2 separate regions of the Homo sapiens genome follow, and region 2 is linked to region 1. A link means that fine-mapping ties the variant in region 1 to the expression of a gene that starts in the linked region. Tissue or cell type: whole blood. Region 1 holds a variant in brackets; the other region holds the start of a gene. All regions are shown on one strand. Distances are between the middles of the regions.

Region 1 (8,356 bases):
TGTTGTCTATGGCTGTTATCCAAAAAGTAGATTCAATTCTGTCATGTATTGGAGTCTGGGAATGTTGTTAAGAGATACATACATTGAAATTTGGAGAGCTGCTCTGTATTTATCAATTAGGCAGTAATAATCTTGGATGAAGGCTAGTCTTATTAATGTTGTGAACCAGTCTTATTAATGTTGTGAACCAGTAGTGTCCCCAGGAATAGAGAACACTACACTACTCACTTTGCATTTTCTTATCCACATAATAGAATTAGTTAGTGATAACCCTCTTTACTCGGAATCGATTGCTGCCACATTTCTGCATGATACATAGATCTCTGCAAATATGTGATTTTTTTCCTAAATGGAGAAAATCCAAAAATTCTTCTTAAAATTTTTCATGGGCATACAAGAAGATAGGAGGTGACATCTTAAAACAAGTATCTCTGAACTTTTTGTATAAAAAAAAGCAACCTCTTTGCTCTATTATTAATACCACATGTGGTGATATGAATGCCCAAATGTAGACAGCAGTTATGAGATATTACAAGAGAAGAAAAAAGCTCTGCCGCTTATGGCAACTTACCCAAAAAGTTATCTTTGACTTAGGCTGGAGGTGCACATAGCATAGCTCCTAGAGTTCTGTTTATGTCATGAATATTTGTTACTCAAAACTCCATAGGCCAAGAGCTCCTGAAGAGAAGGTCACATGCTAGCAGCAATTGTCATTTTTTCCCTCAAATATTGCTATAGTATAATTTTGTTTGAATTATAAACTTCAGTCTTTATTATATTTGATTCTGGCATTTTGGTTTGTAGTGCTATAGTACAGGAAATGTTTTAAATGCTTTGCCTTTATGTAAGTGAATATCGGTACACACACATACACATACACACACAGACACAGACACACACACACACACACTCACAGCCAGTTTAGAATGTGGGGTAAGGAACACCAGACAAAGAGGGCAATATAAGAAAGAGAAGACATTGAAAACATTGGGAAGAGGCAGTAACAGAGTGCCAGAGAAGATAAGGCAGCTGGGAGGGGGAGAAACTAAGTGAGGTGGATAAACTAAAAGCATCCTTCTGGGTTAAAGCAGACTAAAAGCTTAGCAATTGCTTAATATCACCATCTTATCCTATAGATGTGGGAATAAAGGCTAAGGAAGGAGAAATGAAAATGCAGAATCATATGGGGGCTTTTCCAAGGAGGTATGAAGGAAGGTGAGGACAGGGAGAGCGGCTGGAAGTCAGGGGGTAAGAGAAACTCTAAAAATCAGGGCTTGAGGGAAATAAAAGGTGAGGTAAGAGGCTCAGGGCTGTGGGAGGCACATTTTTCTCTGAAAAGCAGTTTGGATGAGGAAGAGATTTGGCAGTTGGAAGAGAGAAGAAGTCACTACAGGGTACTGAGGAAAAGCTTTGCTGAAATTGGAGATCAAATACCAGCTCTGCCAGTAAGAAGTTGCATCTCCCAGTGAAATGCTGCTGCTGCCATTTCAACTGTTAGCTGTTCTCTTTCCTGGTGGTAACAGTGAACATGGTAAGAGTCACTCTGGCAGCTCCCAGCACTGGTGCAGGGGTTTGGATTTTAAAAAGCAAGCAGGGCTTTCCTAGGTGCAATTGGACACTAAGGGTCTGGGTCTTTCTGTCTCCCGCCCTCTTCAACCATTCTGGTGGTTGGGACTAGAACCTGAAGCCTTAAGGCAGTCAAATGTGTCAGACTTCCTGTGTTCTTTAGACTCTAGGTTCTTGTTTTCTAAATCATTTTCATTCCCATTCTTCCTAATTGTCTCCTGCTTCTCTCTTTATCTTCACCATCTTGCTTTTCCACTCTTCACAGCCTTCCAGGGGCCGACCTCCTTTCATGTTATCCAGACCTCGTCCTTTACCAATAGTACCTGGGCACAAACTCAAGGCTCAGGCTGGTTGGATGATTTGCAGATTCATGGCTGGGATAGCGACTCAGGCACTGCCATATTCCTGAAGCCTTGGTCTAAAGGTAACTTTAGTGATAAGGAGGTTGCTGAGTTAGAGGAGATATTCCGAGTCTACATCTTTGGATTCGCTCGAGAAGTACAAGACTTTGCCGGTGATTTCCAGATGAAATGTGAGTCTAGTCCACCGAACTGGGAAGAGTCTCAAGGACTCTCTTTTCTCTCTTTTTTGCAAAGTGTTGCTCTCTCTGATGCTTCTCCCTTCCTTTCTATTTTACCCAAATGCACGCACATGCTTTTCTTGAGTAGTCTCTCACTCCAGCTTCACACCATCACACCTCATATTTCAGATTCTTGCTGCCTCTGCACTCTTCTCTTACTCTCAGACTGTCTTCCACTTTGTAACCAGCTGCTGGTTTGTCTTATGTGAAACTTCTCCTCAAGGGCCCTTACTTCTCCTACCCTGTGCCTGAGTGATCTAACGTGTGGCTTTCTCCCCTAATCCATCTTTTCAATCATCTCCTCCCCGCACCCTCCTCTTGCTGGGAACCTCCACTCACTCTGGAATGCTGCACTCCTGACTGCACCACGCTCTGCCTCACCTCTCCTTTCATACTCACTGTACTCCTTTATCACATACCTTTGTCTTCATGGCATGCACATTTTTCTCAATGCTCTTGTTTCTGAAAATGTCTAAATGTTATCATTAGTTTTTAGCTCATCATCATTTTACACCAAATAACTTTATCCCCACCAAAATCTAAAATCCTAGGTTCTTTTCTCATGCCTTTTTTTCTTATTTGTGTTTAATAACTTGCTCTCTTTTCCCTCTACATAGACCCCTTTGAGATCCAGGGCATAGCAGGCTGTGAGCTACATTCTGGAGGTGCCATAGTAAGCTTCCTGAGGGGAGCTCTAGGAGGATTGGATTTCCTGAGTGTCAAGAATGCTTCATGTGTGCCTTCCCCAGAAGGTGGCAGCAGGGCACAGAAATTCTGTGCACTAATCATACAATATCAAGGTATCATGGAAACTGTGAGAATTCTCCTCTATGAAACCTGCCCCCGATATCTCTTGGGCGTCCTCAATGCAGGAAAAGCAGATCTGCAAAGACAAGGTTAGTCCTGCTGTTATTTCACTTCCCACCACCTCCTCTAAGATCAAGAGTAGGAAGATATCAAAGGATAGGAGCTTAAATAACAAGTTATTTGGTTCCCAAAGGAGTGAATGGGGTCGCTGTCCAAGCTTGTAGGTTTCTGAGTTCATAACCTCTGAACTCGAGTTATAACATGACACTTTTTTTTCTCCTTCCTGCCTTAGTGAAGCCTGAGGCCTGGCTGTCCAGTGGCCCCAGTCCTGGACCTGGCCGTCTGCAGCTTGTGTGCCATGTCTCAGGATTCTACCCAAAGCCCGTGTGGGTGATGTGGATGCGGGGTGAGCAGGAGCAGCAGGGCACTCAGCTAGGGGACATCCTGCCCAATGCTAACTGGACATGGTATCTCCGAGCAACCCTGGATGTGGCAGATGGGGAGGCGGCTGGCCTGTCCTGTCGGGTGAAGCACAGCAGTTTAGAGGGCCAGGACATCATCCTCTACTGGAGTAAGAAATAGCAGGGACCCAGGCTGGAAATGCCAGGAAGTGATCTTCAGGCATAGAGGGAGGCACTGGGGAAGGATAGAGCTTGAGAGATGAAAGAGGGAGAGATTGATTGATTGATTTCCCTGACCCCAATCCCAACAGGAGTAAAAATAGATAATCCAAGTTATCAAAAATGTAGGAATTAAGGACCTGTAAACTGGGTAGAGGGGATCAAAGGATGGATATATGGTGGCCAGGAATATGAGAGAGGAAGTTGGAAATGACCATACATTGGAAGTAGGTGGGCAAAGGAAGGCCAAGGAATTCTGTGTATAGTATCTGAAGTGACATCCTTTTGTCCTCTCTCAATTGCCAGGAAACCCCACCTCCATTGGCTCAATTGTTTTGGCAATAATAGTGCCTTCCTTGCTCCTTTTGCTATGCCTTGCATTATGGTATATGAGGCGCCGGTGAGTTGTGGGTGGTGTTGTTTTTTTTTTTAATATGTCTTTTCTGTTCACCCTTCCACTGTTTTTTACCATTTTATCTATTTAAAAATTGTTTATCCTCAATCCTTTCACCATATCCTTTCCCCAAACTCCCATTCGTTTTATGTGGACTTAAAAAAAATTCTGTTAAAATACACATAACATAAGGTTTACCATCTTTACCATTTTTAAGTGTACAGTTCAGTGGTGTTAAGTGTGTTCACATTGTTGTGCAAGCAATCTTCAAAACTCTTCTGTCTTGCAAGACTGAAACTCTATTCCTATTACGCTGCAAGTTCCCATTTCCCCTCTTCTCCAGGCCCTGGTTAGGACAG[C/T]TCTACATTCTGTCTCTATGAATTCTACTATTCTAGGTACCTTATATAAGTGGAATTGTAAATATTTGTCTTTTTGTGACTTATTTCATTTAGCGTAATATCCTCATTGTAGCATATGAAAGGGCTTCCTTCCTTTTTTGAAACTGAACAATATTCCACCATATGCGTATAACACATTTTGTTCATCCATTCGTCTATCTATGGACACTTGGGTTGCTTTCACTTTTAACTATCATGAATAATATTACTATGAGCATGGGTGTACAAACATCTTTTATGTGGAGCTCTTTTGTTCTTCTGTTTTTAACAGGTCATATCAGAATATCCCATGAGCCATCATCATGTCTCCTCTCCCATTCGCAATAAGTACCAAGAAGCCCAAGATATCAGCCCAAAAGTCAATCTTATCATATTTCAAATGATTTTCAAATTTGATGAAATCAGAGTTTTCATGTATTTTAAAATAAATTATTATTTAAACATCAGCAAAAAAGTACTTAAAACTGTAAATTTATTATGAGACTGTACTAACAGTGTGATTCACCCTGATTTTACACACATTAAAATGTTAGAAAAAATGTGTCTCAAAATAAATGAAATATAATACATATGACTTAATGGTGACTCCCTTTGGCTTCCTAATTTAAAACTTTTCTTTTTCTGCTTCTGGTTAAATATCATTTGTCAAAGAAAACCAAATATAATTATGCCAGAATCACTGTATTTGCAGAGATGCAGAGCCTTTTGGATGTAATTTCTTCTCTGTCTCTGCCTGGATGAATTTCTAGCCCTGAAGGCTCAGCTGAGATGTTTCTTCCTCAGGAAGACTTTCCTAGTGCTATAATAAAAGGAACTATGCAGAGATCCACTTTACACTTTACTCACAGCATTGGAGTTATTTTTGTTTTTCCTCCCCTTCTCTTTGTAAGTTCCTTGAGGACAGTGTTCCCTATTTGTAGATCTCTGGCAAGATCTCTTAGCTGCAAATTCATTTTCTCAGTAAAAACTATCTGAGTTGCTGTAACTGCCAAGTTAAGTGTTTTCTTTCAGAGTCATCTACTTTCTTCCATTTTTTTTTCTTTTTAGTTGATATTGTAGATTCTCCTCATCTTGCTAAAATAGTTTCCACTTAGCCAAAAAATATTATGTTTTCTTTATTTCTGTTCCAAACTCCTTTGGAGAAAACCACCCTTGGCTTACTACAGCTATAGTCTAGCTTTTAAAGGGTCATAGTGAGAGGTGAAGCCAGCTGCACTCCCTGGGTTGAGTGGGGACTCCTATAACTTTTCTGTAGCTAGCAAGAGTTTTGTAAAATGCACCAATCAATGCTCTGTAAAAACACACCAATCAGTGCTCTGTAGCTAGCAAGAGGTTTGTAAAATGCACCAATCAGTGCTCTGTAAAATAGACCAATCTGCACTCTGTAAAATGGACCAGCCAGCGCTGGTCCATTAATTAATAATTTTATAGGGGCCAAGCGTGGTGGCTCACGCCTGTAATCCCAGCACTTTGGGAGGCCGAGGCAGGTGGATCACCTGAGGTCAGGAGTTTGAGACCAGGCTGACCAACATGGCAAAAATCTGTCTCTACTAAAAATACAAAAATTAGCCGGGCATGGTGGTGCATGGCTGTAGTCCCAGCTACTTGGAAGGCTGAGGCAGGAGAATCACTTGAACCCAGCAAGTGGAGGTTGCAGTGAGCCAAGATTGTGCCACTGCACTCCAGCCTGGGTGACAGAGCAAGACCCTGTCTCCAAAAATAATAATAATAATAATAATAATTTTATATGTGCAAACATAAAGCAGTATAAAAACTATCCTTTGCTCATTAGACAGTTTTGAAAAAATTATCAACTCATGATTAAAATAAATTTTAGATATTGTATCATTTCATCCTTAACTATTTCAACATGTCTTTCTGTAACATATAGACTTTTTTAACATATAGCCGAAATTACATTATGACATCCCCAAATAAAAGATTTCTTAATATCATTAAATATATAGTTGTTCAGCATTCAAATTTTTTCCAATTGTCTCATGAATTGTTTTTACAGTTTATTCATTAAATTGGAATAAAAATAAGATTCATGCATTAAAATTAGTTGATGTTTCATAAACCGTTTTTAATCTGTAGGATTCTTCTCTCATTTTTATCCTAGAATTTGTTTTTTAAGAAATTTCATCATTCTTCTTGTAAAATCATCCACAGTTTGGATTTTGCTGATTACATAGCTATAATGTCATTTAACATGCCCCTTTGTTCTCTTTATTTACTATATATAAATAGATTTGTGGGCCGGGCATGGTGGCTCACGCCTGTAATCCCAGCACTTTGGGAGGCCGAGGCGGGCGGATCACGAGGTCAGTTGATTGAGACCATCCTGGCTAACACGGTGAAACCCCATCTCTACTAAAACTACAAAAAAAATTAGCCGGGCATGATGGTGGGCACCTGTAGTCCCAGCTACTCAGGGAGGCTGAGGCAGGAGAATGGCATGAACCCGGGAGGCGGAGCTTGCAGTGAGCCGAGATCGCGCCACTGCACTCCAGCTTGGGCAACAGAGCAAGACTCCGTCTCAAGAAAAAATAAAAAATAAATAAATAGATTTGTGATGTGCTCAGATTCAGGTTTTATTATACTATGTATATCTCACAAGAGGCATATAATGCTTAATGGTCTTCATTCATTACTAGATTAATAGGTCTCAACTCTTACACATTTTACATATGTACAAGTTATATTGAAGGTGGCACAACAGTGTGAATGTACTTAATAACACAGAATTGTACACTTAAAAATGGCAAAATGGTAAATCTTATATATGTGTATTTTACCACAATAAAAAAAGATTGAGATCACCAGAAAAGCTTTTCTCTGTGTGATGGAAATTGTGTGTGTGCGTGTGTGTGTGTGTGTGTGTGTGTATAAAATGTATGTCCAGACAGATAGCTAGATATATCTTAGAAGTAAAAACTAATAAACTAATAATTAAAATATTTATAAACTTCTCTACAATTAAACATGGATTACATATCAACAAAAATTACATCTTTATTTTTAAATGTTTTTCAAAAATGTAGTGAGAAGCGTGGCTTTACAGCTGCATCTATTTATTTATTTATTTAGTATTTTGGCAATTCTCTTTAATGTCTGGCTTAATAAGAAAACAGCTACATTTTCATATCTGCTTTGGCATCCAATCTGATGCAATATCATATTCCATGTAGTCTCTGGAGAACAACATAAAATCATGAGAAGAATAGAATTAAAAATTTAACCTGGTAGTATTGTTAGGATTTATTGGGAACTATGGACCCTCAGAAAAGGAGTCAGGGACCTCAAAGTGCCCTGGGTCATATCTTATGAATGAATGGCCTAGGGGTGAAAGAAAAATATATTAAACATTCTTCACTTATTACTTAGAATATTCCTAAAGAGACATTATCTTCAGTAACTATCTTATTACCTTGATGGAATCAAGGTAATAAGATAGTTATTCTTTCTATTTATTTGCCCGTTCTCAAGAGAATGAATGCTTTATATGGCATTCTCCACAAGTGATCAATATTTTTTTGCATAATTGTATACTCATGAATTTCAGCTTATTTGAAATGCTTGTATCTATCATAGTAGTTGTTTTATTGAAGCTCAAATTGTCCTATCTGTGACAATGAGATTCTTTTCAAGTCAATTCTTCCTGAGCTCCATCAATACACCTCTGTCATCAAGACTGTATTACTTCCTGATGTGGCAAAGTTGCTCAAGGTTCTTGCCGAAACTTCTTGCCCTACACTAGAAATTAGCAAGGATCTCTGGTCCTTGTTAGTTGGAAAAAATGTGATACGGAAATTACTGGGTTAATCCTAGTTTCTAGGCCTTCTAAGGGGGAAAACCTAAAAAAAAATTAGCCTGTGGAAATTTTTTTGAGGATAAATATCATCACAAGCTCATATTTACACTTTCACTTCAAATTCAAAACTATGTGTTTAACTCATCAGTCTCACTTCTACTTCTCTTTTCTCCCACA
Region 2 (8,000 bases), 24 kb before region 1:
ACAAGGATTTTATGTATAAGGTAAAGCAAATGTCACCAGAGTTGGTTTAGGCGTGTCTTCCACTTCTTCAATACTCTGTTTTTGATCCACGATACTTGTGCCAAGCAGAACTGATGTCTTGAATTCTTGGTGTCCTGAGTGTTGGCTCCCATGAGAAAGACAGGGCTGGGTGTGTGGGGAGAAAGAATGTTCTTATTTGAACTGTGGGAAAAGAGGAGGATATTAATCTCAAAGAAAGGAAATAAAGGGGAAAGGCAGAGAAAAAAAAAAAGAAGATAGAGGAAAAAGGAATGAATTGATTACAGGCTGAAGAAACAAAGAACAAGAAAAAGCTCACCTCTGTTTTTTTAACCGTGAGTCAACTACAACCAATATGACCAGGGTAACTATCACAGTCAAACAGATCAGGATGAGAAAGATGGAATATCCACCTGGTTGGGGATAGAATAAGAATACCAACCCTAAAATACTCTATTCCACCAAGCTGAGATTTCCCATTTCACAAGGGTGGGACCTTCCTAGAATTTTCATCTGGGTTTTCCAAAGCCCTCATTTCAATTCCTCCTGATCCTTTGTCTGTGATCTCCTCCCAACCCTCTCCCACTAAATCACTAGTTCCTCCTCCTTTTTCTGTTAGTATGTCTAATTCTCTACTTCCATTTTCTTAAAATTTAACTACTGTCATACTCTATCCTTCTTTATTTTGATTGTCCCAGTTTTACCCTTCTTGTACCTAGCATTCCTACCCATTTCCTCAGCCCCACACTCAAAAGCCCCAGGGCTATTTTCATTATTTCCCAGCAGAGCCTCAGCTGTTTCTCACCCCAATGGATGATTAGATCATGGCCCCCTAGACTGCTGTGTTTCACCCGACAGGACAGGCCAGCTGCCTCCCCAGCCGCCACATCCAGGGTTGCTCGGAGATACCATGTCTCGTCAGCATTAGGCAGGACGTCCCCTCGCTGAGTGCCCCGCTGCTCCTGCTCACCCCGCATCCACATCACCCACACGGGCTTTGGGTAGAATCCTGAGACATGGCACACAAGCTGCAGACGGCCAGGGCCAGGACTGGGGCCACAGGACAGCCAGGCCTCTGGCTTCACTAGGAAGAAGAAGATAGAAAAAAAATGGAATTTTGAAGGGCACCCCAGGCCAGAGCTCAGAGACTCAGGTGCCTTTGTAATAATACTAAGAGTGATTTAGTAATCACTTCTTTCTCTTGTCTAAGAAACAGTCCTGAACCCACACATCTCATTCTCTAGTCTCTCACTATGTCTTTCAAAATGATGATGAGAGGCAAATTCAAATATGAGAGTTATAGTACTAGGAACAAGAGGGGAGAGAGAGAGTTGGGCTCACCTTTCCGTTTCAGTTCTGACTCCCCTGCTTCCATGAGCCCCGCTAGAAATCGAGGGCAGGTGTGACCAAGAAGGCTTTGCAGTATTTCCTTAATATCTAGGTAGCGATTGAGCACTTTACAGATGTTCTGGGCCCGGATCCCTGCTCCTGGAGATGGCTCCCAGGAAATTCCTTGGAAACTCAGGAAATCTGACCCTTGATATGCCATATTTAAGAAGATTTGTGGGGCATTCATTCTACAGCCAGCTAATATCTGGATCTCGAAGGGGTCTGAGAGTGGACAGGGAAGAGAGATCATTATGGAAAGAATGACAAGGAAGAAAAACAAACAATTTAGACAGTAAAGAGATTCAAGGGAAGAAAAATTTGCTGGGAAATCATATGGAGACTAGAGTTTACTGGCAAAGGGGAAGAAAATTTGTGGGAAGAAAATTTGAAGATAATAAAGATACTTTGAAATAACTAATGGGAAAGTGGTAGATGGGAAGGCTATCAGGAAGATAGGAGATTGGTCATAAATAATTCACGTGAAAGTGGTTAGGTACAGGCCAGTCCATGTCAACACTCAGGCAAAGGATAAAGAAGGGCAGAAAGAGGGTTGAGAAAGGCTGAGTCTGAGGGCAGGAATGAGGGGCAGAAGATCCAGAGGAGACAATCATTCCAAAGAGCCAGACATGAAGCTATATTCATGTTGAGATATGTACATGCAGGCCCTTTTGTGTATATGGTGGAGTGTGGGTGGTGGTGAAGGGTGAAGCAGAGGAGGGAGTGGGAGTCAGAGAGTGGGGAACAAGGTTAGTAAGGTTAAATGATGGTCAGAGTCTATATACTATCTTCCACTTTGGAAAATAGTTGGTGTTCCCAGGCAAATTATCAGCTTAGAGCAACGAACTTACATTCAAGCTGAAATTGACCAGCAGAAGCTTGCACTATCTGGATAAAACTATGGAAGTATAACTGGAACAGTGACTGTAAGTTTTTCAGCTCCTGCTTGCTGAAGTTTCCATGGGACCAGGGCTTCAGAAAGCGGATGGTGCCCAAGACAGTGTCCCAGCCATGAGTCTGCAGGTCACCCAGCCATCCTGAGCCCTCACTGTGTGCCCAGCTGTGGTTGGCAAAGGAGGAAGTTTGGAGCATGCGGAAGGACAGCTGCTCCTCTGCTGCTAGATGATAGGATTGTAGAGCCTGGGGAGCTGAGAGAGAGGGAAATGACAAGTAGAGAGAATGTAAAGGGATGGGAAAAGTGATGCCAAAGGGAAAAAAGGAACCCAGAGATGAGAGACAGTTAGGTAGCTTGTACATACTCCAATACCCTTTTCCTGTGGGGCCAGCTTCCTTTCTCCAAAATCAGAGACAAAAACTGAGACTGAGAGCAAGAATTCTCTGCCTGGAACTAGCCTGAAAGGCATATTCCAAGGGCATCCTAGAAGAGTACTGCTCCCTTCCCCCAGGACCTCCCCAGAGCTTCCTCTCAGCCCTCTGGTGCCCTACCATAGGTATCTTTCCACCTGCACTCTTCTTACCTGCTGTATTTTCCCCAGGACAGCAGAGACCCTCGAAGAGGAGGAACAGGAGCAGCATTGAAGCTCTGTTAAAGGAGGGATTCCTTGGCAGGACACCTGCCCTAATAATTCAGATATCAGTACCCCTCTCCACACCCTCTTGCACTCTCGTCTGACTTCCCTTGCTGTACAGACAGACAAACCTCTCCCTCTGCTGACTTCCCTGTCAGAGAAGCCACACTGCCTCGCTTTGCTGCAGCCTCCCACGGGGTTTTTCATTTCCCCTCTGCCTCTCTCACTGTCTGGCTCCAGATTTTCTCCCTGCTCTTGTGTACATCCTCCCAACCTCCCTAATTGCACTAACTGCTGGAAAACGAGTCCTGGCTTAAAACAAAGTCTGTGGTCTGGCTAGAAGATGGAGTAGCTTTTGGCCTTGTAGAAATCAAATCCATACTTGGCTTGTCAATAATCTAATCTGTGAGAAGTGATGGTAGTCACTCAGTGGTGCCTAGTGACCTATCCACCAGTCTCCCACTTCTACCTCTCTGTGATCCTCTCCTCCGCCTGTATCTCTTCACTCTGCTCTTGATCATGATCAGAAGACACTCAGCATCCTGGATGTAGCTGCATAATAAGCAGGCAACCCTCCATAATCCAACTCTCTGTGCTGCTGAAAAAGGAGCAGCAATGGCAATGCAGATTATCAGAAAATCTAAAGAAAGCTCCTTTTTTTCAGTTTCCCCAGTCAAGCCAACTGTCACTGTTAAAGTGGTCCATGAGTGGGCTTGACCTGGAAGTGGTGAGCTAGAGGGCAGGTAGATTTCACCCATGTTTTACAGGTGGCTCTGGAGGAAATACATAGGGGACTTGGATCCCCATCTCTACCCAAACGAAGAAAGCATGTCTGGAAGTCTGTGGGCCAGCTTTGCCCTGGGTATGAAGAAAGACTGAGGGCAGGCATGAAGCTCCTCATTAGTTCATGGCCTGAGAGCATTGGAGTCCCCTTGCTTGCGTTCGGTTAGAGAGCAGTTTGGGTGGACACAGGGAAGTACCTTTAGAGGACTGAAGTGTTCACTGGAGAATTAATTGAGTCTTTATTTTTGTTTCTTTTTCATTGATATTTGTTGTGACACTCTGAAGGCAGTTGAAATAACATTCCTTTGTTTGGTTTTTATATATTTGTTCAACTGACATTTATTCAGAGCCCACCTATGACCAAAAACAATTGCCAGGCCCTAAGATATCAGAGATAGACATCTTTGGGAAAAAATAAAACAAAATTCAACCCCAAACCTCTACTTTTCTTATACAGTAAATTTACTGAACGGTGGTCAGAATTATTGAAAAAGGTCCAAACCTAGTTTCATCTTATTATCATTTCTAAATTCTAAGTTAAAAGAAAGATAAAAAGTTTCCTTGTTTCCTGAGTAGAATATCTACATTTATTTTCAATACTCTTTCTGTGCTGGAGAGGTGCTGGAGAGGATGTGGAGAAATAGGAACACTTTTACACTGTTGGTGGGACTGTAAACTAGTTCAACCATTGTGGAAGTCAGGGTGGCGATTCCTCAGGGATCTAGAACTAGAAATACCATTTGACCCAGCCATCCCATTACTGGGTATATACACAAAGGATTATAAATCATGTTGCTATAAAGACACATGCACACGTATGTTTATTGTGGCACTATTCACAATAACAAAGACTTGGAACCAACCCAAATGTCCAACAATGATAGACTGGATTAAGAAAATGTGGCACATATACACCATGAAATACTATGCAGCCATAAAAAATGATGAGTTCATGTCCTTTGTAGGGACATGGATGAAGCTGGAAACCATCATTCTCAGCAAACTATCACAAGGACAAAAAACCAAACACCGCATGTTCTCACTCATAGGTGGGAATTGAACAATGAGAACACATGGACACAGGAAGAGGAACATCACACACCGGGGCCTGTTGTGGGGTGGGGGGAGGGGGGAGGGATAGCATTAAGAGATATACCTAATGTAAATGACGAGTTAATGGGTGCAGCACACCAACACGACACATGTATACATATGTAACAAACCTTCACGTTGTGCACATGTACCCTAGAACTTAAAGTATAATAATAAAAAATAAATAAATAAATAAAAATAATTAAAAAAAGAAAAAAAAACTGCAAACAAAAAAACAAAAGAAAAAGGTCCAAACCTAGTTTCATCTTATTATCATTTCTAAATTCTAAGGTTAAAGAAAGATTAAAAAAAGTTTCCTTGTTTCCTGAGTAGAATGTCTACATTTATTTTCAATACTCTTTCTTTTCTACAAATACATTCAAAGCTATAAGTTGCTATGTAAATCTATCTATAAATCGCTATGTAAATCCAAAATTGGTTTCATAATAAAATTATGAACAGTAAACAAAGATAAATATTCAAGAGAATATATAATAACCTACAAAAACAATAATACATAATAAAAAGATTGGAATGACCTATGCCAAACATCAATACTACAAGTAACTGTATTCCTTAGAATTTTTGTTTTGTTTTGTTTTTTCCTGAGACGGAGTCTTGCTGTCTTGCTCTGTTGCCCAGGCTGCAGTGCAGCCACAGGATCTCGGCTCATTGCAACCCCCGAATCCCTGGTTCAAACGACTCTCCTGCCTCAGCCTCCTGAGCAGCTGGGATTACAGGCAAGAGCCACCATGACCATCTATTTTTTGTATTTTTAGTAGAGACAGGGTTTCTTCATGTTGACCAAGACGGTCTCGATCTCCTGACCTCGTGATCCACCCGCCTCGGCCTCCCAAAGTGCTGAGATTACAGGCGTGAGCAACCGTGCCCCGGCCATTAGAATTTTTGAATCAGGCCAGGCACGGTGGCTCACACCCGTAATCCCAGCACTTTGGGAAGCCAAGGCAGGCGAATTCGAGACCAGCCTTGCCAACATGGCGAAACCCTGTCTCTACCAAAAAAAGTAAAAATTAGCCAGGTGCCATGATGTGTGCCTGTAATTCCAGCTACTCAGGAGGCTGAGGCAGGAGAATTGCTTGAGCCTAGGAGGTGGAGATTGCAGGGAACTGAGATTGTGCCACTGTACTACATCCTGGGCAGGAGAGTGTGACTCTGTTTCAAAAAAAAAAAAAAGAGGGAGAATTTTAAAATCATTTGCAAAGTAAAATAAAGCAAAGTATATTTAGAGAATAAAACAATGTTGTTATTCCACAAAAAATTGCACTTTTATGTAAGTAAAGATAACCACACCCTAGTTTTTAATTTTGAGGCTACAGAACTCACAGATAACTGCAAATTACTGAGCAAAGTAGAAATAATGTCTGACAGCAACCCCATAATCATTAACAAAATAATGAAATTCCTTCTAAATTAAAATTATCCAGAAGATAAATTCCAAAGAAAAAATATATATTAATTTTAATTTTTGTAACATTATATGGTACAATTATTTCCTTCCTGCTTTACAAAATTCCATCAGTGGGCCAGGCACAGTGGCTCACTCCTGTAATCCCAGCACTTTGGGAGGCCGAGGCAGGCAGATCAGGAGGTCAGGAGATCGAGACCATCCTGGCTAACACGGTGAAACCCCTCTCTACTAAAAATACAAAAAAATTAGCAGGGCGTGGTGGCACGTGCCTATGGTCCCAGCTATTCGAGAAGCTGAGGCAAGAGAATCGCTTGAACCTGGGAGGCAGAGGTTGCAGTGAGCCAAGATTGTGCCACTGCACTCCAGCCTGGGCAACAGAGAAAGACTCCGTCTCAAAAAAAAAAAAAAAAAAAATATTCCATCAGTGCCTAACCACATTTTTTACTAAAAATACTTAGTGTCTGTGGCCAGAGGTCTCTTTTAAAAAGAAATTCCCCCTCTTATGTTTTCCTGAGGCTGCCCCAGTCACATTCGCAGATCCCCTTTTGCCAAAACCAGAAAATTCTCTCAAAACATATTATAAGATGTGCCTTTGGACAACTTAATCTTTCTATGTAAGAAATTTATGGGAGATAACTCATTAAAATTGATTTAAAATAAAATTTTTGAGTACATTTGTACAAATGTAAGAAAATGTTCCATCTGCTAATTTTTTTTCAAAGAATTTAAATACGAGTTTTATTCTTTTGGCTTATTTTCAGGAAAGATTGCAATTTCTACATACTTATTTTCTTGTTTGTGTATACTTACATTTCTTTAACATTTATTCAAATATATTTTTCAGCTTTAGTGAGGTACAACCAACAAATAAAAATTGAGTATAAAAAAGTATTTATTGCCACTGAGCTGTACATTTTAAAATGGTGAAGATGATAAATTATATATTTATATTCTACCTTAATTTTTTTTAAATTGGGTATACTTAAGGTGCACAACATGATGTTATGATATATGTATATACTGTGAAGTAATCGCCACAGTCAAGTTATTACCATATCCATCACTTCACATAGTTACATTTTTTCTTTTTTTTTTCTTTTTGAGACGGATTCTCACTCTGTCACCCAGGCTGGAGTGCAGTGGCATTGAGAGGTGACAGCGTGCTGGCAGTCCTCACAGACCTTGCTTGCTCTCGGTGCCTCCTCTGCCTGGGCTCCCACTTTGGCAGCACTTGAGAAGCCTTTCAGCCCGCCGCTGCACTGTAGGAGCCCCTTTCTGGGCTGGCCAAGGCCGGAGCCGGCTCCCTCAGCTTGCAGGGAGGTGTGGAGGGAGAGGCGCGAGCGGGAACCTGGGCTGCGGGCGGTTCCAGCTGGAGTGCAGGGTGGGCGTGGGCTTGGCGGGCCTGCACTCGGAGCAGCCAGCCGGCCCTGCCGGCCCCGAGCAATGAGAGACTTAGCACCCGGGCCAGCGGCTGCGGAGGGTGTACTGGATCCCCCAGCAGTGCCAGCCCACCAGCGCTGTGCTTGATTTCTCACCAGGCCTTAGCTGCCTCCCCGTGGGGCAGGGCTCGGGACCTGCAGCCCGCCATGCCTGAGACTCCCACCCCCTCCATGGGCTCCTGTGCGGCCGGAGCCTCCCCGATGAGCGCAGCCCCCTGCTCCACGGCGCCCAGTCCCATCAACCACCCAAGGGCTGAGGAGTGCGGGTTCACGGCGGGGGACTGGCAGGCAGCTCCATCTGCAGCCCCAGTGCAGGATCCACTA

The links. PIP is the estimated chance that this variant, and not a neighbour inherited with it, causes the effect. A credible set is the group of variants that fine-mapping cannot tell apart.
Region 2: CD1E starts here. The variant in region 1 is the best candidate, but not a certain one, in a credible set for the expression of CD1E in whole blood (INTERVAL, PIP 0.79).

What each region holds. Positions count from the first base shown.
Region 1 is chr1:158,324,538-158,332,893 of GRCh38, reverse strand. It overlaps CD1B (CD1b molecule), which reads left to right and starts at 1,363. Exons shown (of 6, transcript NM_001764.3): 1 at 1,363-1,531; 2 at 1,832-2,098; 3 at 2,764-3,042; 4 at 3,246-3,524; 5 at 3,880-3,973; 6 at 4,637-4,939. The coding sequence starts at 1,471. The coding sequence ends at 4,658. The variant C/T (reference allele first, on the strand shown) is at 4,327.
Region 2 is chr1:158,348,929-158,356,928 of GRCh38, reverse strand. It overlaps CD1E (CD1e molecule), which reads right to left and starts at 3,035. Exons shown (of 6, transcript NM_030893.4): 1 at 2,883-3,035; 2 at 2,256-2,552; 3 at 1,360-1,629; 4 at 824-1,102; 5 at 338-431; 6 at 1-201. The coding sequence starts at 2,940. The coding sequence ends at 33.